Linked DNA regions of Homo sapiens. The protein of the gene in region 1 purifies or fractionates together with the protein of each later gene. This does not show direct contact. Each region holds a gene or a part of one and is shown on either strand. Other genes may lie near its edges. The genes, in order: GRK5, LYZ, TOR4A, SPIN1, SMARCA1, MYO9B and MYO1C.

Region 1 (3,500 bases):
CTGGGGGCCTGCTCTATGCCAGGGCAGAGATGAACCTGGGTGGACCCTGCCCTCTAAGAGTTCAAGGTTGGTGTGGGGAGGCTTCCCAGAGCCTCTGGAGATGAGGCCTTTATAGAGACAGCCCCAGGTGGGGTGTGAAGGGATCCCCAGACCTGGTGACACATCTGTCACTGGAGGGTAGAGGCTACCTCCTGCTTATAGTCTCCTGACATTTGGCTAATACGAAGGTTGTGAATCAGTGCACCGGCTCAGCATGGGCTCCGCCATGCCAGGAAGGTTCTAGCAATGGTCTCAGGGCTCGGCACTTTCTGGGACTCTCCCCTCCAGTCTGCTCTGGTCTCCAGCTCAAGGCTCAAGGCCATGCTGTCCCCAGCAAAGCAAACCATGGGCCCAAGTGCACGTGGACGGAAGCAGGGGTGCGGGCAGGGGTGTCCAGTTGCAGAGCTGCGACCCTTCTCTAGTTCCCAAAGCCCGGGGTGCACGCCACCGTGGAACTCAGCGGACTTTTAGCTGGAAGCAAGACCACATCATTCACATGCTCAGCGCAGAATGAAAACGCAGGGTCCATGTTCCACATTTAGAATTTTAAGATGGCAACAGAGGGCACTGAGCCAGGTGTGGGGACCCAGGGTGCCCTAGGGGGTGCCAGGTCAAGCTCACGAAGCTGGCCCTGGGTGGCTTGCAGAGGAATGTTAAGAAATGAGCGTATTTTAAAAATCTGTAATGGAACAGAAAGTTACCTGGCACACCCAAACCCCTCTTTCATGGCTATTATTTCCTTGGAAAGGTTTCCTTTTAAAATACATTGATTTTTATTTTAAAAAAAGAGTCAATGGAAGTGAAAAAGATGATGTCACTCACAGTGCTCGTGGTTTAGGAATGTGGCAGCAGCCCCGACAGTGGTGTGGGGATGGGATGACTGTGGGGGGCTGGCATGGATGACTGTGGGGGGCTGGCAGGGACGACGGTGGGGGGCTGGCAGGGACGATGGTGGGGGGCTGGCAGGGATGACTGTGGGGGGCTGGCAGGGACGACTGGGGGGGCTGGCAGGGAAGACTGTGGGGGGCTGGCAGGGAAGACTGTGGGGGGCGGGATGACTGTGGGGGGCTGGCAGGGATGACTGGGGGTTGGCGTGCAGCCTGGGGAGGGCCAGTGGGGAAAAGGCAAAGTCCCCAGCTCACAGCGGCTTCGCACTCCAGGGCCTGCAACCTTTGCTGACCTGAGGCCTCGGATGCCAGGAACAGAGGCCCTGGGCCACAGGGTACACGGCTGAGGCAGGAGGGCACCGGTGGGCTGCTCTGTGCACCTTGTCAGGCTGTGCGCTTTGCGGGGCTCTGCTACCTCATCCTCCTAATGCCCTGATTCGAAGTGGCCAGGGTCACTCCCAGGGTGACCAACTGTCCCTGTCTCCCCAGGACACAGGACTTTCAGTGCTAAAAGCAGGACAGTCCCAGGCAAAGCAGGACAGTTGGTCGCTCTGACCCTCAGAGCCGCCTCCTTCCACATGCTGCTTCCAGGGCCTGGAGCGCTTTTCTCCAGCCATGCCTGGGTGCACGCACGGAGGCCCCGCTACTCTCCCATCTTCCCGGAGGCTGCCTGTTCTCTTCTCTTGTGACTCGTATTTCTACTTCTATTTAAGGGGTTTTGCTGACACCCCTGCTCCTCTTCAGACTGGAAACAACCAACTGTTTTGTGTGCCATGGGATCTCCCTTGGGGCCTGGCACGGGACCTGGAGTGTGCTGGAAGGTAGAGGAATAGCTCCAATGCGATGACTAATCTCAGCCCGTCACCATAGCAATAGGTAGCCCAGAGGCCACAAGGATGGCCACCCGGGTTCCAAACCTTTGCCACACCCCCAGTCTGGATGCCCACATCCTCTCCAATTTCGGACATCAGCCCAATGGCACAACCGTGATGTTCATGCACTCAACACTATGTGGTTTCCTGGAACACCAAGGAGTGGCCACTCCCAAAGCCCTTGGCACTAAAAACAAACAACAAACAACACACTCCTTGCATGTGGCACTTCCCATAATAGTGACTCTCAACCCTGGCTCTACGCTAGAATCAGCTGGGGAGGTTTCAAAACTCCTGAAGCCCGAGTCTTACCCCAGACTCCCTGGGGACTGCATCCAAGGCGAGTGTTGTTCATGCTCCCCAGGCGGTTCGCCAGGCAGCCAGGGTCGAGAGCAATGCTGTGATTACCATCCTCCCCCTGCCTGCTCAAGCTCATCTGCAGATTGAGTTTGCAGCATTCAGTGACTTTCACTTTTTATTTTTTGAGATGCAGTCTCGCTCCGTCGCCCAGGCTGGAGTGCAGTGGTACAATCTCAGCTCACTGCAACCTCTGCCTCCTGGGTTCAAGTGATTCTCCTGCCTCAGCCTCCCAGGTAGCTGGGATTATAGGTGTGTGCCCCCAAGCCTGGTTAATTTTGTATTTTAGTAGAGATGGGGTTTCACCACGTTGGTCAGGCTGGTCTCGAACTCCTAACCCGACTGCCTCAGCCTTCCCAAGTGCTGGGATTATAGGCATGAGCCACCGTGCCCGGCCTACTCTTTATATTCTCAGTGGCCCCCGTGTTTCTCCAAAAAGCATTCCCTGATTACCCATCACACTGATGCCATCCCTGGCCAGACGGGGTCTGTGGTGTGGTTGCCATGGACACTGATCCGCACCTAGCAGCTTCCCAAGCCACCTTCTGTCCCAGAGGACCAGGGAATCCCCATGTATAGGGGGTGCCAGAGTTCCAAGGACGGTCCCCACCTGCCTCCACTCAGGGCGGTACTGGTAAGTGATAACCACTGGTTCTGGGAGAGGGGGACGCAGAGGCCCTGATTTGTAGCATTTGCAAATTGCTGCTGTGCAGATGCTACCACCAGATCTACTGTAAGCTACCGACGCAAAGCCATTGGACACGGAATTGGGAAGAGAGGTGCACATGAGCTCTCTGGAGATGCAGTCATTCGCCTGCAGCACACTGCTGCTCCCACGGCCTCCATAGTCCCCGGCCCAGTCCCCCTGCCAGCAAGGGGTCATCCGCGGGAGCGTGGCAGGAGCCGAAGCACAGCAGGCCTTCCTGGCTTCTGACTCCCTGACTTTAAACAGAGCAGGCCCCGGAATCACAGCACGTATCCCGCACAGATCACCCAGCCTCTGCCTGGTCTGCATCTCTTGGGCCTCTGATCCAGCTGAGAGCTCATGATTTATAGACCATGTAGGGGACTTTCAAGGACAATTCTACCTCAGCTGGAATCTTGCCTCACACACCGACTGGGGGACCTGGGGACCTCCTGGGAAGATGCAACTCCCTGCAATGTGAGCTGCTGGGGGAGGGGCCTCTTATGTTTCTGCCTGGCCCAGAACCTGGCGTCAACAGTAGTGCTCGATGCATGCATGCTGGTCAAGATGAACTGAATGTAGTGGCCGTCAATGCTCTTGAAAGCATTCCCCATTCAGTTCTCATTTCACCCTCAAATCTCCCAGGCAGGTGGGAGGCAT
Region 2 (4,126 bases), on another chromosome or scaffold:
TATTTACAATAATAATTCTACAGGAACTGTATTTTTTGAAGATGTAAACTAAAGAATTTAGAAATGGAATATCATCATGTTCCTAATTCACTTAAAAGTCTCTCAGCAGTAGCCAGGTACAGTGGCTAACGCCTGTAATTCCAGCACTTAAGGAGGCTGAGGTGGGAAGATTGCTTGAACTCAGGAGTTCAAGACCAGCCTGGGCAACACAGAATTTGCCTGTACTAAAAATTTCAAAAATTTGCCAGGCATGGTGGTGCACACCTGTAGTCCCAGCTACTTGGGAGGCTGTGGTGGGATGATCACTTGAGGCTGCAGTGAGCTGTGATGGTGCCACTGCACTACAGCCTGGGGACAGGGAGACCCTGTCTCAAAATAAAACAAAACAAAACCAAACAAAAAACTCTCAGCAAAAAAAAAAAAAAAAAAAAAAAAAAAAAAAAGGCATAGAAGAAGCAACTATGGCAAAATGTTAACAACTTTTAAAGTGCATAATGGGCATATGGCTGTTTATTATACTAATGTCTCTAATTTTCTATACATTTAGAACATTTCATAAAAAAAAAAGTAAAACAATTGAAAAAGGACCATACAACTAAATTATCCCAAAACCTCCCCAAAGTAAGCAGGAGCAATGGCATTGTTCTGGACAAAGCATCAGTAAGGCCATTGACAGTAAATTAATAGGTCATTCCAGAAACTTCTGTATATTAAAAAACATCAACCTTTTATGATACCACTTCTTTAATTTCTTACTCAGGGAATTATGAGGAAAATAATAATGACTTTCTGGAAGTTGAGATGTAGTTTTTCTAGGTCCCTCATGAACCTTTCAAGGCTTTTTCATTTGTATTGAGTCTCAATTCTTGTAAGTATAACCAGATTGGTCAAATATTAGCTTGTCTTACCACTGCAGGATAAATGACAGGCATTAACTGCTCCTGGGGTTTTGCCATCATTACACCAGTAGCGGCTATTGATCTGAAATATCCCATAATCAGTGCTTCTGTCTCCAGCATTGTAGTTTGTAGCTCGTGTGTTGTAACCACTCTCCCATTTGGCCAAACACATCCCTGAAAAGAACTTATTTTTAGTAATAAACAGCAACACTAAGTGACTTATACTCTATAGCAAAATCAGTTCTACTTAGCTACTTCTATTTTACTGATTTGTTTTATAAGTATAAAGATTTACTTATAAAATATCTTAGCACTTTAGTGTTAAGATAAGGGACTTGTAAGAGAATCCTTTTGTAATGCAAATCATCTTGTAACACCAACGAACAATATAACATACTTTTAAAATATTAAAATACATGTTTGTTCCATTGCTTTTACCCTTCCCGTGCTCCCATCCCTCAGGCAACATTCAGCCAAGAACAGAAAAATCAACAGAGCTGTTGAGTAGATTTTGTAAATTCATAGCAGATACATAGGCTGATGGAAAAATGCTTTTTTTAATCAGAAAAACATAAGGATTTTCTGATAGAAATTTTCTTATAATATCTAAAGGTGAATTTGGATATCAAGTTAGAATCTTGAAAACAAGACTATTCCGTGATTTCATCCCTTCACTCATTCATTCAAAAATAGCTATTGAGGGGAAATGTCTGAATTCAATCTGAAAACTACAGAGATTATTACATCGACAACTATGTACTAAACTATAAAATAACTTTTCCTCATGGCACATCTTGAATTGTGTGGGAGAAAATGAAAGATAGTTAATCAAGTAGAGTAGATAAAAATAATAAAACATTTCATGCTGAGTTTCTGGGATCCTATACAAAGAGTGACTGAAGGGAACTAGGTTCCTACTGCTCTTGTGTAGGGAATTCAATATATTCTTTAAAAACATCACTGTTAAAAATCCCATGTCGGCTGGGTGCAGTGGTTCACACCTGTAATCCTACCACTTTGGGAGGCTGAGGTGGGCAGATCATTTGAGGCCAGGAGTTCAAGACCAGCTTGGCCAACATGGTGAAACCCCATCTGTACTGAAAATACAAAAAATTAGCTGGGTGTGGTGGTACACACCTGTAGTCACAGCTACTCAGAAGGCTGAAGCACGAGAATCACTTGAGCCCAGAAGGCAGAGGTTGCAGTGAGCTGAGATCATGCCACTGCACTCCAGCCTGGGCCACACAGTGAGACTGTCTTTAAAAATAAAATAAAATAAAATAAAAATAAAAATAAAAATCCCACATCACGGCAGGGGACTTGAAGACAAGAAAAATACTGCATCACTCTAGGCTCTCAGAGCCCAAGTTCAAAATGGGAAATAACTGGAGTCACATACCAAGGACTTGAGAGAGCTCTGCCAGGTCCTCAAATGTATCTTTCAGTCAGCTTACATGTGCCATTGAATCTCAGGCACCCAGCAAACTTCCTAGCACTAGAACAGTACAACAGGTCCTGTTTTACTTAGAATGGAATTTTCCCCTGCCATGCCCGTATTCCTTTATCGGGTATCTCTGGTTATAAAGAACCAAACTGATGTTTTTAGCCATTGTAAGTATACAAACCCACAAAGAAATAAAACATCTATTCACTCAAAGCCCCTTCTTCTTCTTCCTTCTCTCCTAGTGTCTGTTCCATACGTAGCTAATTCTCTGGAATTATGGAGAGTAGACTTACAGTTTGCTAGGCTGATTCCCCTGTAGCCATCCATTCCCAATCTTTTCAGAGTTCTGGCCAACTCACACCTTTCAAAGACCTTGCCCTGGACCGTAACAGAAAGGAGGACAAGCCCCAGAACAATGAGAGCCTTCATGTTGACTGCTAGGTCAGAGTGCTAGGCTGACCAGGGTGAGCTGGCCCCAGTATTTAACATCTTTTAACTTCCTTCTTCCCCTTGTGGTTTGGGGGCTCCACCCTTTCAGTTGTGTGGAAAACAGGAACTGTCTATTGATCCACTGACTCTAAAGAGATTTTTTTAATGCTTGAAGAGAGATATGCTGATGTCCTAAGAATTAGTCTACAGGAAAATAATGAAATGGAATTGTTTAAAGTACTGGCTCTGGAAGAATTGGGGCATAGCACTACTTCCAAGACAGGAACTTTCTTCTGTTTGATTATGAATTTGAGCAATTATAAAGAAAAAAATGACTATTTTGTGCAGCTTAAAATGAGCTGTGATTTTTGAGTAACATTCAATTTTGTGAAATTGTTTTGTATGCATTCACTTTTTTATATTTATCTTTTTTACTTAAAATTATTTTACATATCTTTTCCACAAAATGGACATGACACATGTGCCTGTTGTCTTAATGGGTGTATAGTGTGACACCACGTTGCTCAGCTAGTTTCTTACTCTAGACTCTTTTTGTTACTATAGCAAATTTTTTATTATTATAAATCAGTGTTTTACTATTATAAATAAGGTTCATGTGAACAACTTTACCAACTACCTTTTTTTTTTTTTTTTTGAGATGGAGTCTTACTCTGTCACCAGGCTGGAGTGCAGTGGCGCAATCTCAGTTCATTGCAACCTCTGCCTCCCGGGTTCAAGCAATTCTCCTGCCTCAGCCTCCCAGGTAGCTGGGACTACAGGCATGTACCACCATGCCCAGCTAATTTTTGTATTTTTAGTAGAGACAGGGTTTCACCATGTGGCCAGGATGGTCTGGATCTCTTGACCTCGTGATCCGCCCGCCTCGGCCTTCCAAAGTGCTGGGATTACAGGTGTGAGCCACCACATCCGGCCTACTTTACCAACTACTTTTCACAATACTTTGCCTCCCCTTTCCATATTAGAACATAAGGGGTCATTAGAAAGCAACAGCATTTTAAAAATAAAACCTACCCAAACATATATCCAACTAAATGCTACCTTTGAAAATAGCAATCTCAGGAGGCTGTGCACAGCTTTTAAAACAATGCTACCAGAACTCAAAAAGAACTGCACTTCTGTATCTGCCTAAGAGGACAGATTCTGAGCCACACAAAGTGTCATCACTTTGTAGTTACCCTTATTTTTCATCAGTGGCCTCTAAAGATTACCAGATTTGGTTTTAAATGACAGTTCAAGGACCCTGTTCAAAAATCAAGAATAATCTCATTTTTCAGGCTAGGCCTAATTTTGATTCTTCAATAATAAATAGGGCCAGGTGCAGTGGCTCATGCCT
Region 3 (4,299 bases), on another chromosome or scaffold:
GCCTCCGCTCCCCTCCCCTTACTGTCAAGACACTCCAGCCTTGAGCTCCTGAAAACACGACCTGAGTGAGGGGTGGGGTGGGTGGAGAAGGCAGCCAGAGCCCCAGCACTGTCATGGTTGGCTGTGGCCTCCTCCGGGGTCATCTCCAGGGGGGCCGGAATGAGAACCCCACTTCAGCACTGAGCAACACGCGACCACCCCCAAGAGGCGGGGTCACGTCCCAGCTGTGTGACCCCGGGAATTGTTGGCCCTGAGATCATCCTTGTACCATGGGAACCCACCTCTTGGGGCCACAGGGAGAACGCACCAGACCATGCCTGGGACGCCCAGCAGGGCAATGGGCAAGTTTGGGAGGGAGGTGGCTGCTGTCCTGCCGCCCCCAGGGACAGACTCCGGACTCTGAGGCGGGTGTGGACCTGGAAGCAGAGCTCCAAGCTGATCCGCACCCACCAGCCGGGCAGCCACAAATTCACTAGAAACCTCAGGGGCCTGCACCAGCCCACAAGGTCCCTGGTCGCCCTCCTACTGCCGCCATCAACCCAAACGTCCCGTCCTGCGCCTCCACTACAGGAGGTTCACCGTGGCCACCACCTGCTTGCAGCCGGTGACGGCAAACTCGCGGCCAGCCACGCGGTAGAAGCTGAGCTGCGCGGCCAGGTTCTCCGCGCGGGCCTGGTCAGGAAAGAAGCCCTCACCCGCCATCTCGTCCCGGAAGCAGCTGACCACATCCCGCTTGTCCAGCAGCAGAAACGGCACGATGGCCGCGGCCTGCCACAGCGGATGCTCCCGGGACAGCACAGCCAGCAGGCTGGCGCGCAGGTCTTCTTCCGCCTGCGCCGCTGCGGCCTCGGCACTGCGGAAGCCGTCGGGGCGCAGGGGCAGCGCGCGGGACGCGTTCTGCAGCACGAAGCGCGTGACCTCGGCGCCACCCGCGCCACTGAGGAGCACGTAGATGGCGTTGTGGAAGTGGTGGGAGCGCTGCGGCTGCAGGAAGCCGTGCAGCTCGTCCAGCAGCGGCCGCGGCATGAGCTCCACGTCGTCCAGCACCAAGAGTGGGGTCTTCTCCTCCGCTTCGGCCCGCGCCACCACGTCGGCCACGCGCCGCGCCAGCTCCTCGCGGCAGTCCTGTGCGGCGCGCGCCTCGGGGCAGTGGTGCCGCGCATGGTATTGCAGCACGAGCGCGCTGTCCTCCAGCACCGAGCGGAAGTGGCGCGCCAGCAGGCGGCCCACGTGGCTCTTGCCCACGCCACTGGGCCCGTGCAGCGCCAGGAGGAGCGGACGACTGTGCACATGCGTGGCCAGGTAGTCCCGCATCAGCGCCACGATGCGCGATACGGCAGCGGGCTGGCCGAACACCGCGCGCTGCAGCGCTTTCTCCAGCCCGTCGAGGTCATAGCGCTGCGCGTTATCGTCCAGGTTCTCGATAGCGTTGAGAACTTGGAAGCCCACGATGGCGACTAGCAGCAGAAGGCAGCGCTGCGCGCGGCTCCTGTGCTCCACGCGCGGCCGATACTTGCGCGAGGTCTCCGGGTAAAGCACCAGGCGGCTGCGCCGGCGCTTCTTGCGTGGCGTCCTGGAGGGTAGCTCCGCGGGGCTGTCGAAGGTGAAGAACTTTGGCTGGTCCAGGTCCGCGCGCGGTGCCCGGGGGCTGCAGCCCGGCCTGGGCGCCCCGGTCCCGACGTCGGGCCCCCCACCCGGCTGCAGGAGGCGCCGTTTGCGTAGGACACACACCCGGCGGCGCAGGCGGAGCACAGCGCGCACGGGCGCGATCACGCACCGGCCCGAGGCTCGGGGGGCCGCGGCAGCAGGCTCCAGGCTGGGCTGGCCGCGGTCCATGTCGCAGGAACGGCGCTCCGCATACAGGTCGCCCTCCCTGCAACGGGAAGACGGGGAGGGTCTCTGGACTCCCGCCACTGCCCTTTCCCGCGGGCCGCCGGAACCGGTCCCCGGAGTGATCTTACCCCCTGGGAGTCCCGTGGGGTGCGGCCCGGGCTGCCCCAGGGCCAGGGGCCTGGTCGCGGCCTCGCCCCTCAGACCGGCAAGCGACCCCTCCGCCCCTCCGCCCCTCCGCCCCTCCGCAGGGCCCCGATGCAAATCTCTCGGGTCTTCCCATAAACGGCCGCGGGCCTTGAGGAAGTGGCGGGGTAGAGGCTTATCTGGTGGCCGCCCCGGCTTCCTGGAGGAGTCGTCGAAGGAGTCAGTGGCCGCCCAGGCGCCCACTGGGGTGAACAGTCACCCCCGGACCCTGCCCCCGCCCGCGGCTCCCACTGGACTGGGCCGTCTCCCAAGGAGGGGCCGCGGGAAGCAGAGGCCTGAGCGCCCAGGAGTTCAGAGACGCCCCCACACGCTCCAGAACACTTGGCGGGGGTCTGGCTGGAACTTATGATTTTGAGAATAGGCCCGGGCCCCGTCCCCAGGCTCAACCCAGGCCTCCCAGCCCCGACTCCAAAACTGGGGTCCTCCCAACACCCCTCCAGTGAACGAGCTGAGCAGTGCAGGGAGCCCCCCGGAGACTAGTGGAGGTGAAACGAAAAGATGGACAGAAAGAAGAGGCCGGTCGGAGCAAGAGAGCCACTGACTGGCAGGAACTGGGCCCTGGGCCCCAACCCACCCCCTACCTGCAGCTGGTCCACTGCCCTCAGCTCCGCAGGCCCCTGCCTGTGCCAGACGCTGGGGCCTGAGACTCCAAGCAGGAAATGCGCCTCCCAGGGCGAGGGGGTGGGCCAGGGGCCTCCTGGGCCAGCTTCGGCCTGGAGGGGCAGCGACACCTGTGGGTCCCCAGGGAGCGGCCGGCCGGAGTAGAGGAAGCTCTGGGGAGGTTTCCGCTTCTATGCAAAGGAAGTGAGTCAGGGGGTGCGGCCCAGGCGGGACTTGGGCTGGACGGAGGCGCCAAAGGGGGGAGGCCTGGCCGGCTTGCCCAGATCCCCTGGCCGGAGGTCACATTCCCGCTTCAGTTCTCTAGCGCTCAGAGCCCTCCTGGCTTGGTCAGGCTCAGGACACCTGGTGAGGCCGAGGGCCCCTGCTGCATGCTGTGCCCCCACCCTGGGCTCCTGCACCTCAGCCTGTCCTCCAGGGCCCCCACCTCCCCCAGGTTATCCCTTCCACCTGTCACCCCACACACAGGGCTTACAGCTGGGGGGAGGGGCTCCAGGCCCTGTGTAAGCAAGGCGGGAGCAAGGCAGCAGCACAGGGGGCGGGCAGGGTCCTCTGCCGAGCTGCATACCCCCAATCCCTCTCTTATTACTCCTCTCCCCGCTTTTTCATTCCCCTCCTGACCCCAATCGGGGGCCCCCCAAAGTGGGCTCATTGTCTTTCCTTTCCCCCTTCCTCCGTCCCCAGCCTGGAGCCCCCTGCCCAGGACAGGCCAGCACACACAGACGGAAGTTCTATCACGGAAAAAACCACGTGCGGCTCAGGGTCCCTGTGGGGGTTGGGGAACAAATTTAGAAACAACTTGGGCCGGGAGCCAGGAGCTGGAGCTCTGGGCCCTTCCCCCTGCCGGCCTGCCTAAAGGACCCTGGACTCCTCCTACCCTGGCCCAGCCTGGAAGCCGCCTTCCAAGGAGGGGCAAGGTGGCCGCTCCAGCCACACCAGTGCTGCTGGCATTCAGCTCAGGACCCCGCAGTCCCAGGGACGCCCCACTCCTCCCAACAGCCAGCCCGGGCCTGATGGTTCCAGCTGTATATTCCTCACACACTGCACCCAACCAGACAGGCTCCATCAGGGAAACCGGTCGTGGGTTGGGGGTTTCCATTCTCTCCAGGGTATGGGGTCCACCGGACTATCACGCTCCCCTCCAGGAGCCAGGCCTAGGGCTCCCCTCCCCTGTGCAAGGGGTGCTCGGGGGCCCGGATCCCCAATTGTCGAGGCCGCGGGGGCCGCACACACCAGGTGGAATGCTGGTGCTCTTTGGGCCCACTCCCCGGCCTCTGTGGGACCAGAGCGGAAGGAGGTTGGCTGTCCAGGCCCCGTGGCCCCAGCACGGAGGTTGGGGTCCTTTGGGGGCCTCAGGCTTTGAGTCTCGGTGCTTCTTCTGACACAGAGAGGACCCTGGAGGGGAGGCCCTCGGGCAGATGCAGGCTGACCGAGCCCTGGAAAACCTGCAGCAAAGCCTCTGCCCTGCCTCCAAGTGCACCCAGGGCTGGAGCTGCTTCTGCCAGAGGCTGGCCCAGCAAATCCTCAGGCCAGAGCCCTCTGCAGGAAAGGGACTCGCTCAAGGGGTGCCCCAAGACCTGGCCCTATGGGTCAAAGGTGAATCTGAGGCCTGGGCCAAGGCCTCACCCCCTGCACTTTCTCCCA
Region 4 (3,500 bases), on another chromosome or scaffold:
TTGAATGGTTCCCTTCTTGATTCATTCTGAACTCTCCCTTTGGCCCAGTGTCTACTAGTTTTTCAAGCCAAGAACATCTGTTGAGTAACAGGTATCTCAATTTTGCCATACTTCCTTTCTGCATAGGTAGCAGCGTTCTTACTTCTACTCCTGAGGCAAGCCATCTCTGATGTCCTGGAAGGTCGTTTCTCTTCTATCCAGTTGTTGGGATGAATCTTCTGGTAGAAGGGAAGGGAATTTGGTACTAGGGTTGAAAGTCACGCTACTGAAGTTCTTTATTGACATCTCTGAGCAGAAGAGAGGCCCGAGTCGTCCTGGGGATTTTCTTCACTGAGCATTTGTGAAGATTCTGGGGTCAAGGTTGGGTTAAACTTTTGTGGTGGGTCCATCCGCGGTCTAGTCAACAGTACTAAGCTCTTCCTGCATCTTTGGGACCCAGCGGGAAGTGATGCCAGCTCTCAAATTGCTACAAGGTATCCTGGAAAGAAATCTATGACCCAGAAAGAGCCTGAAAACCCAAACTCCAGCAAATATTGGTGAAAGAGCCAACCCGCAAAGCCTTTTAAAACCTTGAATTCCTTACCTATAAACTGGGATAAAACCTATGGTGTAAGTCTGTTCTGAGAATTACATGAAATGGATTTATAGAGTTCTCAGTACAGTTCCTGAAATACAGCAGCTGACGCCAGTAGATGTTGATTTCCTTCTCCTTTCTACTTTTGAACTTAGCTGTAGTTATTAGCATTTTTTTAATGTTGAGGTAAACAGTTTCCTTAGTTGTGCATCAGTATTCAGTCCAATTTAATGTTAAATTATGTTTTTACTGGGAGCCTGTTCATGACCTTAAAATTGCCGTAAACCCTTTATAGAACAAGTCGTGTTTGGCTAAATATATAAACACAGATGTATCCTTACAGACTTTATAGTCTGATAGAGGAGATACACATGCATATAATGAGGGAATTCTGTGCTGAAGGTATCTGGGAAGAGAAGGTGATTCCATAGATTATCAGAATGGGAGAAGAAAGACATCTGGATGGAGGGGAAAGCAGGAACAGAGGCATGAGAGGAGTTAAAGAGGCCATCGGGGATTTCAATCCCAGCCAAAAGTTAGCCCCTTGTTACCTGTCTCCTCTCCTCTCCTCTCTTCTCCTTCCTTCCCTCCTTCCTTCCTTCTTTCCTTCCTTCCTTCCTTCCTCCCTCTTTTTCTACCTATCTACCTAGCTACTATTTTCTATCTATCCTCCTTTGTGAGTGTGTTTATGTATAGCAGGGGACGAGAACACCTACCTCATCAGGGGTGAGCTTAAATGAAGTAAAATGTTTCATAGGCTCCTGGTGTACAGTAAATGCCCAGTTGATATTGATGATGATGTCACCACTGCCTACACCACCTGTAGTTTCTTTCCTATGGCTGATCTGTCTAGGGATGAATTTGGGGGCCACCTTTTAAATTCTGCATGTAACATTAAGGTGGTTGGTGTTGAATTTGTAGGCAGAGGGAAACCATTGAAAGCAGGGGCAGGATTGGACCTGTGTTTTAGAACAGTATGAAAGGTGAGTTGGAGGAACCTGCCCATGTAGGATCTTTAATCTCCAGAGTCTAGCCTGTTAGAGAAGCTGGTGAAGTCATTTAAGGCATGGGGTATTGGTCTGAACTCAGAATATTTAATGTTATGTTAAATGTGCTTTTTTTTTTTTTTTTCCTGAAGGGAGGGGAGGAGGAAGAATTTACTCAATGTAAATATTATTTTATCCAAATGGTGAGAGAATACATGAAAAGACTAGTAAGGCATCTTTTTACCATTTGAGATGTTATAGTAGCGTGTTAACAAAATAGGCAATTTTTTTTTTAAAACTAGGTTATATTTCTTTGTAGTTGTTTATGCTTGGGCCTGTCTGCAAATGATTTAACAAATCATATCATATATTTGAATTACTGTTGCTTAACCTGACACAGGCAATAAGGAGAGAAAAGAATGTCCTTTTTCTTGCTTTTGGGTTTTTTTTTTTTTTTTTTTTTTTTTTTTGAGACGGAGTCTCCCTCTGTCACCAGGCTGGAGTGCAGTGGCGCAGTCTCAGCTGACTGCACCCTCCACCTCCCGGGAGTCAAGCGATTCTCCTGCCTCAGCCTCCCGAATAGCTGGGTCTACAGGCATGTGCCACCACACCTAGCTAATTTTTGTATTTTTAGTAGAGACGGGGGTTTCATCATGTTGGCCAGGATGGTCTCGATCTCTTGACATTGTGATCTGCCCGCCTCGGCCTCCCAGAGTGTTGGGATTACAGGCGTCAGCCATCTCTCCAGAGCTGATTTTTTTTGGAGGGAGGGGTTTGAATTACTTTTTTCTTTCTCTCTTTAGCATCATTGTAGACCCATGGATTTTTATGTATCCAATGTGTGTTTTTGGTTTTTTAAATTTTGAGACAGTCTTGCTCTGTCACCCAGGCTGGAGTGCAGTGGTGTGACCTTGGCTTACTACAACCTCCGCCTCCCGGGTTCAAGCTATTCTCCTGGCTCAGCCTCCCAAGCAGCTGGGATTACAGGCGTGCACCACCATGCCTGGCAAATTTTTTGTATTTTTAGTAGAGATGGGGTTTTACCTTGTTGGTCCAGCTGGTCTCAAACTCCCAAGCTCAAGTGATCCTCTCACCTCAGCCTCCCAAAGTGCTGGGATTACAGGTGTGAGCCACCATGTGTGGCTTTATCCAGTGTTTTAATCAAATACTCACTGTTTTTCCTTAGCTTTTCACAACTTGGACATGTTGAGGTCCTTTCAACCTGGTTCTCTTTCCTTTGACATGACACGTAATCTCTGAAGCTTTTCTTGCTTTCTGACACAAGATGTCTAAGGTTCACTTTGTGCTTTTCCTGCCAAATACCTATCAACCGAGTCTTTCAGCTTGCTTTATTGAGGATTAGAATTTAGATACAGAAATCTGGGTGTTATATGTTCTTACTGTTAGAATGCCCATGCTTTTATTGGACAGCCATGGGAAGCATACAGATTTTGATTTTTATATTGGTATTTCCAGTTCGAATTTAACATCACAGAGTTTTTACTATGAGCTTATCCTTTTTTCTCTAACGTTGAAAATTTACATTCTTAGCAACATTAATATAATTGCATTATCTTACAGTATAAATGTAGTTTGAAAATAACACTAATAAGCAACTGTAGCTTTATGTTTGGTTATGGTTTTTTCCTTAAAATATATCCACATAAGCATGTACAGTTGACATTCTAATTTGGAAGGCCATTTGAAAAGATTTTCTCTGATTATGTTATATGTTTGATAATTAATTTGGGTTGTTTGCCTGAAATTCTTCCTTTAAGAATTGCTTTAGTTTTTTATTTAATGTATTTTTTTTTTTTTTTTTTTGAGACAGAGTCTCGCTCTGTCGCCCAGGCTGGAGTCCAGTGGTGCGATCTCGGCTCACTGCAAGCTCCGCCTCCCGGGTTCACGCCATTCTCCTGCCTCAGCCTCCTGAGTAGCTG
Region 5 (3,500 bases), on another chromosome or scaffold:
AGTGAGTTGACAGATGAAGACATTACAACTATTCTGGAAAGAGGGGAAAAGAAGGTTAGTTAAAATAGCATTTTATTTTCATGCTGGATTGTTTTAATATCAACATACTTCAGCATACTTATATTTTCATTGTACATGTTTATCTGCATTATCTACATGTTTCAGGTAGCTCATATTCTCTCCAACAACTTGTAGATCTATTTCCAGGGGTAGATTAAGGCTTTAAAACTTTTTTTTGGTGAGAAAGACTAAGAACCAGAGTTTAAAATTGAGTGACCTTATATCTAATGCTTTATTGAAAATACTATATCTAAAAGCCAAGTAAATTTTGTGTTTAATCACATGTATAAGGAATGCTTTTTTTTTTTTTTTTTTTTTTTAAAGAGACAGGGTTTTGCTCTGTCACCCAGGCTGGAGTGCAGTGGTGCAATGATAACTCACTGTAGTCTCCACCTCCTGGGCTGAAGTGATCCTCCCACCTCAGCCTCCTGAGTAGCTGGGACCACAGGCATGTACCAACATGCACATCTAATTAATTTTCTTTTTTAGAGACAGGGCCTTGCTGTGTTGCCCAGACTGATCTTGAACCTCTGGCCCCAAGTGAGCCTCCCACCTCTGCCTCCCAAAGCACTGAGATTATAGGCATGAGCCACCATGCCTGACCAGGACTGTATTTTTATAATCTTTTTTTTTTTTTTTTTTTTGCACTGGACTAGAAATCATCTACTGATACATTGGTTAATTGAAAATCTTTTATAAAACATTTCATGAAATGCTAAATCACTATTTGTTAAAGCATAATAAGTTGTTTCAGAATATTGTAATTTTGTGTTTAGTTCACCTTCCCCTCTCCACAAATTATGGATAATTTTAAACATAAGTAAAAGTAGACAGAGTAGTATAATGAGCCCCGAAGTACTTATCACCTGTTTCTAACAACCATCAACCAGTCCTGTTCTGTCTATATCCCCAGTTATCTTTCCCCTCCTTGGATTATTTTGAAGCAAATCTCAGACATACTTCAGCTGTAAATAGTTCACTGTGTATTTCTAAAATAGAAGGACTCTTTAAAGATAATCATTATAACATTGTCTCACCTGAAAAACCCCAATAATTCTTTAATAACACCAAATATCCAGTTAGTATTCAAATTTACAATTGTGTCGTAAATATTTATACTTAAAAAGTTTTCTTTTCATTTTTAAATCAGAATGCAAATCAAAATACAAATTGCCATGGTTGAGATTTCATCTCTATCTTTTAAAATCTATAGGCCCCCTCTCCTGCCATGTATTGTATTCCTTGTAATTTATTTGATGAAAAGACTAGGTTGTTTGCCTTTTGAGTTAATCACAGTGTGGATTTTGCTGATTTCATCTCCATGGTGTATTTTACTATGTTTGTTGCATATCTTGTAAACTGGTTGAATTTGCTTTTCAGAAGAATTTTGTAGTTCAGGTAATAACCTGCATTTTAAATGATCTTGTGTTAATATGTTTCATACCAGTATGCAAAATGTGTATTTTTAGTCCATCTTTGCCTTTCTCTTAGCTTTAGCTATTTGTCCCATTTAAATTATGCAAGAGCAATTATAATGTGGGTACAACTTCACTGACAAAAGATTTTAAAGAAAGCCTAAGTGAGAGTACTTGGGAAGCACCATTTAAATATTTGAAATACTTGGGCAAGTAAAATTTGCACTTCAGGTTTGATGTTAGCATTGCATTCATACCTTGTAAATTAGCAGACTGGATATTTCATGTCAAAACCTGACTATTAAAAAGGTAGAGAATCCACAGACTTTTACAAGTAATTCAGTGATAATTTTCTCATTTCAATGTTTTCACCTTTAGACTGCAGAGATGAATGAACGCCTGCAAAAAATGGGAGAGTCTTCTCTAAGAAATTTTAGAATGGACATTGAACAAAGTTTATACAAATTTGAGGGAGAAGATTATAGAGAAAAACAGAAGGTAACTTTTTACTCTCAACCATTAGACCCTCAAATGAGCATTTCTCCCCATAACAATTATAAAATAACACTGGCACTTACCTATTATAATACCCTGCTCTAGAGTGAAATTTGATATAGGTCTAAATATCTCATGCAAGGTATATCTTTCGTTTATTTTATTGGTTTATCGTCGTCGTCGTCATCATCATCATCATCATCATCATCAATTTTTGCTGTTGCTGCTGCTGCTGCTACTACTACTACTACTGCTTAGTACTACTTTTGTTATTGAGAAGCAGTGTAGGATTGAGGTTGAATTCCTGAATTCTGGAGCTGAAATCTCAACTCTTGTCACTAATTAAGTGACTCTGGGTATTCTCAATTTTCTCATTTATCAAATGGAGGTTATAATAGTTACATCATAGAGGGATTCTGATGATGAAATGAGTTAATACTCATAAAGTTATTAGAATAATGCCTGACACTTAATGTTAACTGTATGAATAATAATATTAGTAACATTTAGTTACTTAAATGCAGAAGGACTTTGTTACATGTGGTCTGTTGAAGAAATGGGGGTTTTATTTATCTTGTTTTTTAAACTGAAATTAAGGCTGAGATTTTAAAACTTTTTATTTTTAAATTACTTTAGACTTACAAAATAGTTGTAAAAATAGTACAGAGCTAACCTATAGCCTTCACTCAGCTTCCCCTAATATTAACAATTTACATGTTAGTATAATGATCACAACCAGGAAATTAACACCAGTTTTTCTCCTAATGTCCTTTCCTGTGCCAGGAAAAGGACATTGGTTAATTATCTAATTAACTGGTGTTAGATTCCAGGGGATCTAATCTAGTATCCCACAGTGCATTTTTAAAAAAATAGACTTTATTATTTTTTCCTTCTATTTTTAGTTGACACATACTAATTGTACATATTTATGGGATACAGAGTGATATTTTGTTACATATATACAATGTGTAATGATCAAATCAGGGTAACTGGTATATCTACTGTCTTAGCACATTTGTGTTGCTGTAAAGGGATACCTGAGGCTTGGTAGTTTATAAAGAAAAGAGGTTTATTTGGCTCATGGTTCTACAGGCTGTAAGAGAAGCATGGTATCAACATCTGCTTCTGGTGAGGGCCTCAGCCTGCTTTCACTTATGGCAGAAGGCAAAGGAGAGCTGGTGTGTGCAGAGACCACATGGCAGAGACAGAGAGAGAGAGACAGTACCAGAGAGAGGAGGGAAATGCTAGGCTCTTTGTCAGGAACTAATAGAATGAGAGAACTCACTCATTACCTCGAGGACTACACCAAGCCCTTCATGAGAGATCTGCCCCTATGACCCAAACACTTCCTATTGGGCCCCACCTCCAACACTGGGGATCAAATTTCCATGTGAGATTTGGAGGACAAACATATCCAAACTATAGCATTCTGCCCCTGGCCTCCCAAATCTCATGCCCTTCTCACATTGCAGATTATAATCATTCCATCCCAATGGTCCTCAAAAGTCTTAATTTGTTCCAGCATCAGCT
Region 6 (3,500 bases), on another chromosome or scaffold:
AATAGAACCCACCCACCACAGCCCCAACAAGGGTCCTCTCCCCTAACAAGGCAGCCAGGCAGACGCAGGGCAGGGGTATCTGTGACACTGAGGGGGCACCACCCTCAGCCTCCTTTCCTGATCGAGGAGATTCCTGCTTTCCAGAAGCATCTCTCAGGGCCACTGGGCACAGGCGAAGCCCCGTCTGCAGCCCGCAGGCTGGGGGTCCCATCGGAACTCAGTGGGAGGTGGAGGGAGTGTTTGTTTCTGAACCAGCTGTCTGCTTTTTCCTCACTCCAGCTTCAGCCAGATGATCTCGGAGAAGCAGAAGGCAGAAGAGAAGGAGAGGGAAGCCCTGGAAGCCGCAAGAGCAGGTGCTGAGGAGGGCGGACAGGGTCAGGCGGCTGGAGGGCAGCAGGTAGCTGAGCAGGGGCCGGAGCCAGCGGAGGATGGCGGGCACCTGGCATCGGAGCCTGAGGTGCAGCCAAGTGACAGGTCCCCCCTAGAGCACTCCTCACCTGAGAAGGAGGCCCCAAGCCCAGAGAAGACTCTCCCACCCCAGAAAACCGTGGCGGCTGAAAGTCACGAGAAAGTCCCCAGCAGCCGGGAGAAGCGTGAGTCGCGTCGGCAAAGAGGGCTGGAGCACGTCAAGTTCCAGAACAAACACATCCAGTCCTGCAAGGAGGAGAGTGCCCTCAGAGAACCTTCCAGAAGGGTCACCCAGGAGCAAGGGGTGAGTCTCCTGGAAGACAAAAAGGAGAGCAGAGAAGATGAAACCCTTCTAGTCGTAGAGACGGAGGCTGAGAACACATCTCAAAAGCAGCCCACAGAGCAACCCCAGGCCATGGCAGTTGGCAAGGTCTCTGAAGAAACTGAGAAGACGCTGCCCAGTGGGAGCCCCAGGCCTGGCCAGTTGGAGCGGCCGACCAGCCTGGCCCTGGACAGCAGGGTCAGCCCACCGGCCCCTGGCAGCGCCCCCGAGACCCCCGAGGACAAGAGCAAACCATGTGGCAGCCCAAGGGTTCAGGAAAAGCCCGACAGCCCCGGAGGCTCCACGCAGATCCAGCGGTACCTGGACGCCGAGCGGCTGGCCAGCGCCGTGGAACTGTGGCGGGGCAAGAAGCTGGTGGCCGCCGCCAGCCCTAGTGCCATGCTCAGCCAGTCCCTGGACCTCAGCGACAGACACCGGGCCACAGGGGCCGCCCTCACGCCCACAGAGTAAGCCCCACACCCTCTTTTGTCTGAGCACCAGGGTCCAGGCCAGGTGGGCAAGGCCAGGGGCAGTGCCACACATCCTGGAAACACATGTGTAATCATGCCCAGTGGGTGTGCGGGAGGCCTGAGGGAGGAGGACGAGCAGGACATGCTAAAGACCAAGTGAAGACAAGGCAGCCAGCCAGGGCCCAGGCTGGGACCTGGAGCCTTGAGGGGTCCCCAGAAGGAGCTGTGCTCACACAGAAAGGCCCCGGCCTTGAGAGAGGTGGCTCCTCAGGTCAAGGTCCCTGCTGCCCAGAAATCTTGGGCCTTGGTTTCTAATTGGTGAACAGGACTAACTGCACTCCTCGGGGTTAAAGGAGCAGGGGCTTGCTCTGCCTGAGCCTTAGTAAGCCAAGTGTCAGTGACTTGGAATCTCCAGCTCCCTCTTCCAGAGGGCCTGCAGGACCAAAGGAAAGAAATCAGGGAGGAGACAGGCCTTCCCTGCAGCAGGCCTGCTCAGCCTCCCACTGCTCGTATTGGGGGCCAGATCATTCTCTGCGGTGGGGGCTGTCCTGTGTATCATAAGATGTTGAGCAGCATCCCTGGCCTCCACTTACCACATGCCAGGAGTATTATCGATAGATGATGGATGGAGGGAGGGAGGGAGAGAGAGAGAGAGGGAAGGATGTGTGGGTGGGTGGGTGGGTGGGTGGATGGATGGAAGATAGAGATGATGGAAGGATGGATGGAAGGAAGATAGAGATGATGGAGGGATGGATGGATGGAAAATGATAGAGGTGATGAATGGAAGACAGATATAGATGATGGATGGATGGAAGATACACATGATGGATGAAGGGATGGATAGATAGAAGACAGGTAGTAATGATGGATAGAGGCATGGATGGATGGATGATACAGATGATGGGGAGATGGATGGATAGAAGATGGGTAGAAATTAGGCTGGGCGCGATGGCTCATGCCTGTAATCCCAGCATTTTGGGAGGCCAAGAGTTTGAGAGGAGTTCGAGACCAGCCTGGCCAACATAGTGAAACCCTGTCTCTACTAAAAATACAAAAATTAGCTGGGCGTGGTGGCGCATGCTTGTAATCCCAGCTACTTGGGAGGCTGAGACAGGAGAATCGCTTGAACCTGGGAGGCAGAGGTTGCAGTGAGCCGAGATCAAGTCACTGCACTCCAGCCTGGATGACAGAGATGAGACTCCGTCTCAAAAAAAAAAAAAAAGTAGAGATTATGGATAGAAGGAAGATAGATGCCGACGATAGATGGATGGAAGGAAGATAGGTAGGTAGAGACAATGAATGGAGGGATGGAAGATAGGTAGAGATGATGGATGGCTGGGTGGGTGGATGGATGGATGGATGGACAGACAGAAGGATGGGTGGATGGCTGGAAGATAGAGATGGAGAGATGGAAGGAACATAGAGTTGATGGATGGAGGGATGGATAGATGATAGGTAGATTATGGATGGGAGGAAGATAGAGATGATGGAGGGACGGATGGGTAGAAGATAGGTAGAGCCGGGTTCGGGGGCTCACACCTATAATCCCAACACTTTGAGAGGCTGAGGCGGGTGGATCACCTGAGGTCAGGAGTTTGAGACCATCCTGGCCAACGTGGCGAAACCCCGTCTCTACTAAAAATACCAAAAATTAGCTGGATGTGTTGGCGCATGCCTCTAATCCCAGCTACTCGGGAGGCTGAGGCAGGAGAATCACTTGAACCTGGGAGGCAGAGGTTGCAGTGAGCCGAGATCACACCATTGCACTCCAGCCTGGGCAACAAGAGCAAAACTCCGTCTAAAAAAAAAAAAAAGATAGATAGAGATGACAGATGAAGAGATGGATGGAAGGCAGATAAAGAGGATGGATGGGTGGAAGATAGAGACAATGAGTCAATGAGTAGAAGGATGGATGGATGGATAGATAGATGATAGATAGATAGATAGATAGATAGATAGATAGATAGATAGATACATAGATAGATAGATGGGCAGGCAGGCAGGGTCTCTTGGGCTAAGGCAAGGTTTCCTACCCTCCACACTCAACATCTGGGGCTGGCTCACTCTCTGGGGTGGAGACCATTCTCTGTAGGGTATTGAGTAGCATCCCTGCCCTCCACTCACCAGAGGCCAGAAGTACCCACCCACTCCTTTCCCCCCACCCAAGTGGTGACAACCAAAACTGTCTCTAGACATTGCCAAGTGTCCCCTGGCAGGGGCAGAACTGCCCAAGTGAGAACCCAAGAACCACTAAGACAAGAAAATGCCACTGACTCACTCTAGTCAGTAAAAGCCATGTT
Region 7 (3,500 bases), on another chromosome or scaffold:
TTCTATTTTTAACTTTCCCGGGACTCGAGTTCGGGGGTTGGGGGAGGAAAATCCCGCTTCCTCTGGGACCCGCAGGCCTCGGTGCCCGCCCAGCGCCCAGGCCCGCCGCGGAGTGTAGTCCCAGGCCCGGAAGTGAGTTCCGGGTCGGTGTAGACGCGGCGGCCGCGCGGGTTCCGGGCTCCACCCTGGTGCCAACGGCGTCCCTCCTGGAAAACCTGACTCAGGCGGAGCCCGCCCCCGCCCCCGGCCCGCGGACCCCCCGCCCCGACACCCCCACCTCCACCAACCCCACCTGGAGGGGACCCCAGCCCGGCCGCGCGGGAGGCGGGGGAGGCCGGGGAAGCCCCGCGCTTCAGGGGCCCGGGTGGGGGCGGTGCGGGGGGCGGGCCCTCCCTCGCTGACGCCGCCGCCACCGCCGCCGAGCCCGGGACCCGGAGCGCGGGCAGCGGAGCGGGCGCCAGGCCGGCCGGGCAGGATGCGCTACCGGGCGTCGGTGAGCCTGGGGGCGGCGGGGCAGGGCGGGGGGTCCCGGGCGTCCCTCCCCACCTCGCGGCGTCGCCTCGGCCTCGCCAGGAAGCGGGCGCGGCCCAGGAATTCCGGGTGGAAAAACGTCCCGGGAAGTTGCAGGGGGAGGAGGCCGAGGCGGGGAGGGCGGCGCGGGACGCTCGGACCCGGGGCCGGATGAGGAGCCGCCGGGGACGCCTGAGAACGCGGAGACCCCTGACCCGAGGGCGAGGGGGCGGGGACCGCGGCCGGATTTGGCAGCCGCTTCGGCGCGGGATTGGAGCGGGGCGGTGAGGACAAGCCTGGGAGGGGCAGGCCCCCGGCCAGAAATCTGGGCCTTTCGTGGTCAGAGGACACCGGCGGCCCCTTTGGGATCCACCCCCAATCACCACCACCTTGTTCTTCTCTGACCCTGGATACTCTGGGTGTCCATTTTTTGGAGCCCTGAGACCCTGTTTGAAGAGGGATCCATCTCAGCCCTGGTTGTGGGGCGAGGGTCTTGCTCAGCCTGCACCACCCTCCACCCTCCAGTAGGACCCAGAGGCAGCTGGGCTTTCCATGGTAAAGCCCCCATCCCCTGAGGCTTCTCAGGACTCTCAGTGGAGGAGGTGCCTGGGGAGCCCAGCAGCTGGAGGAAAGGGAGTGGCCCCAGCCATGCGAGGGAGGGCCTCCCCCGCGTTCTGGAGTGGGTGGCTGAGCCCAGCTGGGGTGGGAGGCCCTCTGGGGGAACCCCTCTGGTGTAGTCTGGGAGTAACCTCTTGCTTGGTGCTCGACGCTCTACCGGTGGAGGTGGGGGTGGGTCTGGGTGGGAGAGACGGCCCCACCCTGCCTGCAGAATTGACCCTGAGCCATTTGTCCTCCAAAGCACCTGTCACACGTGGCTCAGAGCTGAGGGACCTGAGGTCACCTGGTCTAACTCAACTCCTCCTCCTTTAGGAGGAAGGAACCAGAGAGAGGAGGGGATTGGTCCAAGCTCAACAGAGCAGTCTTTCTGCTATTTCAAGGAGTTCCTTCTTGTGACCCCCCCTTTCTCCACCCAAAACCAGCACCTCCCGGGTTCTGCCCTCTGGTCCTGCCTGCGTCCATGCCCTGTGTCCGAGTCCCAAGTGGTTCATGTTGTCTCTGTTCTGTGCCCGCAGCCTCGGTGATCCCTCTGCTGCCACACTGGGACCCGGGCCCTCCACACCCGGCTTTCCGCACCCGGCCCACCACACCCAGGCCCTCAGCACCCAGGCCCCCCGCACCCGTCATGCTCATGTCCCGTGTCTAGCCCGGAGTCCACAAGCCCCTACGTTCCCTCTCAGTCCCACAGGCGCAGGGAAGTGGCCTTGCCCCGCCCCCGATGACTCTGACCCTCTTCTGTGGCCCATTCTCTGCAGGCCCTGGGCAGTGACGGGGTTCGGGTGACCATGGAGAGTGCGCTCACCGCCCGTGACCGGGTGGGGGTGCAGGATTTCGTGCTGCTGGAGAACTTCACCAGCGAGGCCGCCTTCATCGAGAACCTGCGGCGGCGATTTCGGGAGAATCTCATCTACGTGAGGCCCTTGTGGGGAGATGGCAGGGGTGCTGGGGTCACAGACACAGGCAAGCGGAGGGGAAAGAGACACCAAGGGTCACCGGGATAAACTTTTTTTTTTTTTTTGAGACAGTTTCACTCTTGTTGCCCAGGCTGGAGTGCAGTGGCGCGATCTCAGCTCACTGTAACCTCCTCCCCCCGGGTTCAAGCGATTCTCCTGCCTCAGCCTCCCGAGTAGCTGGGATTACAGGCACCCGCCACCACGCCCGGCTAATTTTGTATTTTTAGTAGAGACGGATTTCTCCATGTTGGTCAGGTTGGTCTTGAACTCCCGACCTCAGGTGATCCGCCCACCTTGGCCTCCCAAAGTGCTGGGATTACAGGCATGAGCCATCGCACCTGGCCCGGGATAAACTTTGGACCCTCTTCCCCCGATCCCAGACCTACATTGGCCCCGTCCTGGTCTCTGTCAATCCCTACCGGGACCTGCAGATCTACAGCCGGCAGCATATGGAGCGTTACCGTGGCGTCAGCTTCTATGAAGTGCCCCCTCACCTGTGAGTGACCCCAGCCCCTCCGGGAGCGACCCCTCTGTCTCCATCTGAGGTGACCCCGCCCAACCCTTACCTTACTCTGAAATGATCCTGGCGTCCCGCGCCACATCTGTGAGGAATCCCACAGTCTCTTGCCCCCCAGTGACCAGAGATGAATGTCGCAACTCAGCTCCATGTGGGTGGGACTCAGTCCCTACCCCGACTCACACCCATGACTTATTCCCCAACTGGGAGTGGCCCCCCAATCTTAGTGACCTCTGAACCCCACCTGCAAAGACCCCCCCCAGCCCTACCCGTGAGTGACTCCAGCCTCCACCTAAGTGACCTCCAGCCTCCCACCTGTGAGAGCCTCTCAGTCCTCCCGCTGGCGGTGACGCCCATTCTCAGCTATGACGGATCTCCCATGGCCCACACCTGTGAGGGACCCCCAGTCCCCATCCTCAAGGGTGTATTCGACTCCCACAAGAGGACTCCACCCAGATGTGGGAGCGGGACTCTCGTGGGGCTCTGCTTGGCCCCCCTCCCCAAACTCCCTGACGAGCCTCCGCCCCAGGTTTGCCGTGGCGGACACTGTGTACCGAGCACTGCGCACGGAGCGTCGGGACCAGGCTGTGATGATCTCTGGGGAGAGCGGGGCAGGCAAGACCGAGGCCACCAAGAGGCTGCTGCAGTTCTATGCAGAGACCTGCCCAGCCCCCGAGCGCGGAGGTGCCGTGCGGGACCGGCTGCTACAGAGCAACCCGGTGCTGGAGGTGAGGGGCAGGGAGAGAAGCCCAGTGCCAGTGCGGGAGGGGAGGGGCAGGGAGAGAAGCCCAGTGTGGGAGGGGAGGGCAGGGAGAGAAGGCTAGTGTGGGAGGGGAGGGGAGGGGCAGGGAGAGAAGCCCAGTGCAGGAGGGGAGGGGAGGGCAGGGAGAGAAGCCCAGTGC

Evidence for each region.
Region 2: the proteins of GRK5 (region 1) and LYZ purify together in Homo sapiens (affinity purification with mass spectrometry, with the first as the bait; one large-scale study listed by BioGRID). This does not show direct contact.
Region 3: the proteins of GRK5 (region 1) and TOR4A purify together in Homo sapiens (affinity purification with mass spectrometry, with the first as the bait; one large-scale study listed by BioGRID). This does not show direct contact.
Region 4: the proteins of GRK5 (region 1) and SPIN1 purify together in Homo sapiens (affinity purification with mass spectrometry, with the first as the bait; one large-scale study listed by BioGRID). This does not show direct contact.
Region 5: the proteins of GRK5 (region 1) and SMARCA1 purify together in Homo sapiens (affinity purification with mass spectrometry, with the first as the bait; one large-scale study listed by BioGRID). This does not show direct contact.
Region 6: the proteins of GRK5 (region 1) and MYO9B purify together in Homo sapiens (affinity purification with mass spectrometry, with the first as the bait; one large-scale study listed by BioGRID). This does not show direct contact.
Region 7: the proteins of GRK5 (region 1) and MYO1C purify together in Homo sapiens (affinity purification with mass spectrometry, with the first as the bait; one large-scale study listed by BioGRID). This does not show direct contact.

Annotation. Positions count from the first base shown.
Region 1 is NC_000010.11:119,448,571-119,452,070, reverse strand, and holds part of GRK5 (G protein-coupled receptor kinase 5), read right to left. Parts: intron 1-3,500. UniProt on the Homo sapiens protein: Serine/threonine kinase that phosphorylates preferentially the activated forms of a variety of G-protein-coupled receptors (GPCRs).
Region 2 is NC_000012.12:69,347,055-69,351,180, reverse strand, and holds the start of LYZ (lysozyme C precursor), read right to left. Parts: upstream 2,801-4,126; 5' UTR 2,773-2,800; coding exon 2,637-2,772; intron 1,074-2,636; coding exon 909-1,073; intron 1-908. UniProt on the Homo sapiens protein: Lysozymes have primarily a bacteriolytic function; those in tissues and body fluids are associated with the monocyte-macrophage system and enhance the activity of immunoagents.
Region 3 is NC_000009.12:137,276,227-137,280,525, reverse strand, and holds the start of TOR4A (torsin-4A), read right to left. Parts: upstream 2,801-4,299; 5' UTR 2,619-2,800; intron 1,874-2,618; 5' UTR 1,837-1,873; coding exon 565-1,836; 3' UTR 1-564.
Region 4 is NC_000009.12:88,391,444-88,394,943, forward strand, and holds part of SPIN1 (spindlin-1), read left to right. Parts: intron 1-3,500. UniProt on the Homo sapiens protein: Chromatin reader that specifically recognizes and binds histone H3 both trimethylated at 'Lys-4' and 'Lys-9' (H3K4me3K9me3) and is involved in piRNA-mediated retrotransposon silencing during spermatogenesis.
Region 5 is NC_000023.11:129,485,491-129,488,990, reverse strand, and holds part of SMARCA1 (SWI/SNF-related matrix-associated actin-dependent regulator of chromatin subfamily A member 1), read left to right. Parts: coding exon 1-54; intron 55-1,853; coding exon 1,854-1,973; intron 1,974-3,500.
Region 6 is NC_000019.10:17,194,277-17,197,776, forward strand, and holds part of MYO9B (unconventional myosin-IXb), read left to right. Parts: intron 1-279; coding exon 280-1,197; intron 1,198-3,500. UniProt on the Homo sapiens protein: Myosins are actin-based motor molecules with ATPase activity. Unconventional myosins serve in intracellular movements. Binds actin with high affinity both in the absence and presence of ATP and its mechanochemical activity is inhibited by calcium ions.
Region 7 is NC_000017.11:1,482,687-1,486,186, reverse strand, and holds part of MYO1C (unconventional myosin-Ic), read left to right. Parts: intron 1-55; exon of another isoform or gene 56-132; intron 133-426; exon of another isoform or gene 427-475; coding exon of another isoform or gene 476-493; intron 494-612; exon of another isoform or gene 613-1,062; coding exon of another isoform or gene 1,063-1,065; intron 1,066-1,883; coding exon 1,884-2,039; intron 2,040-2,461; coding exon 2,462-2,577; intron 2,578-3,127; coding exon 3,128-3,326; intron 3,327-3,500.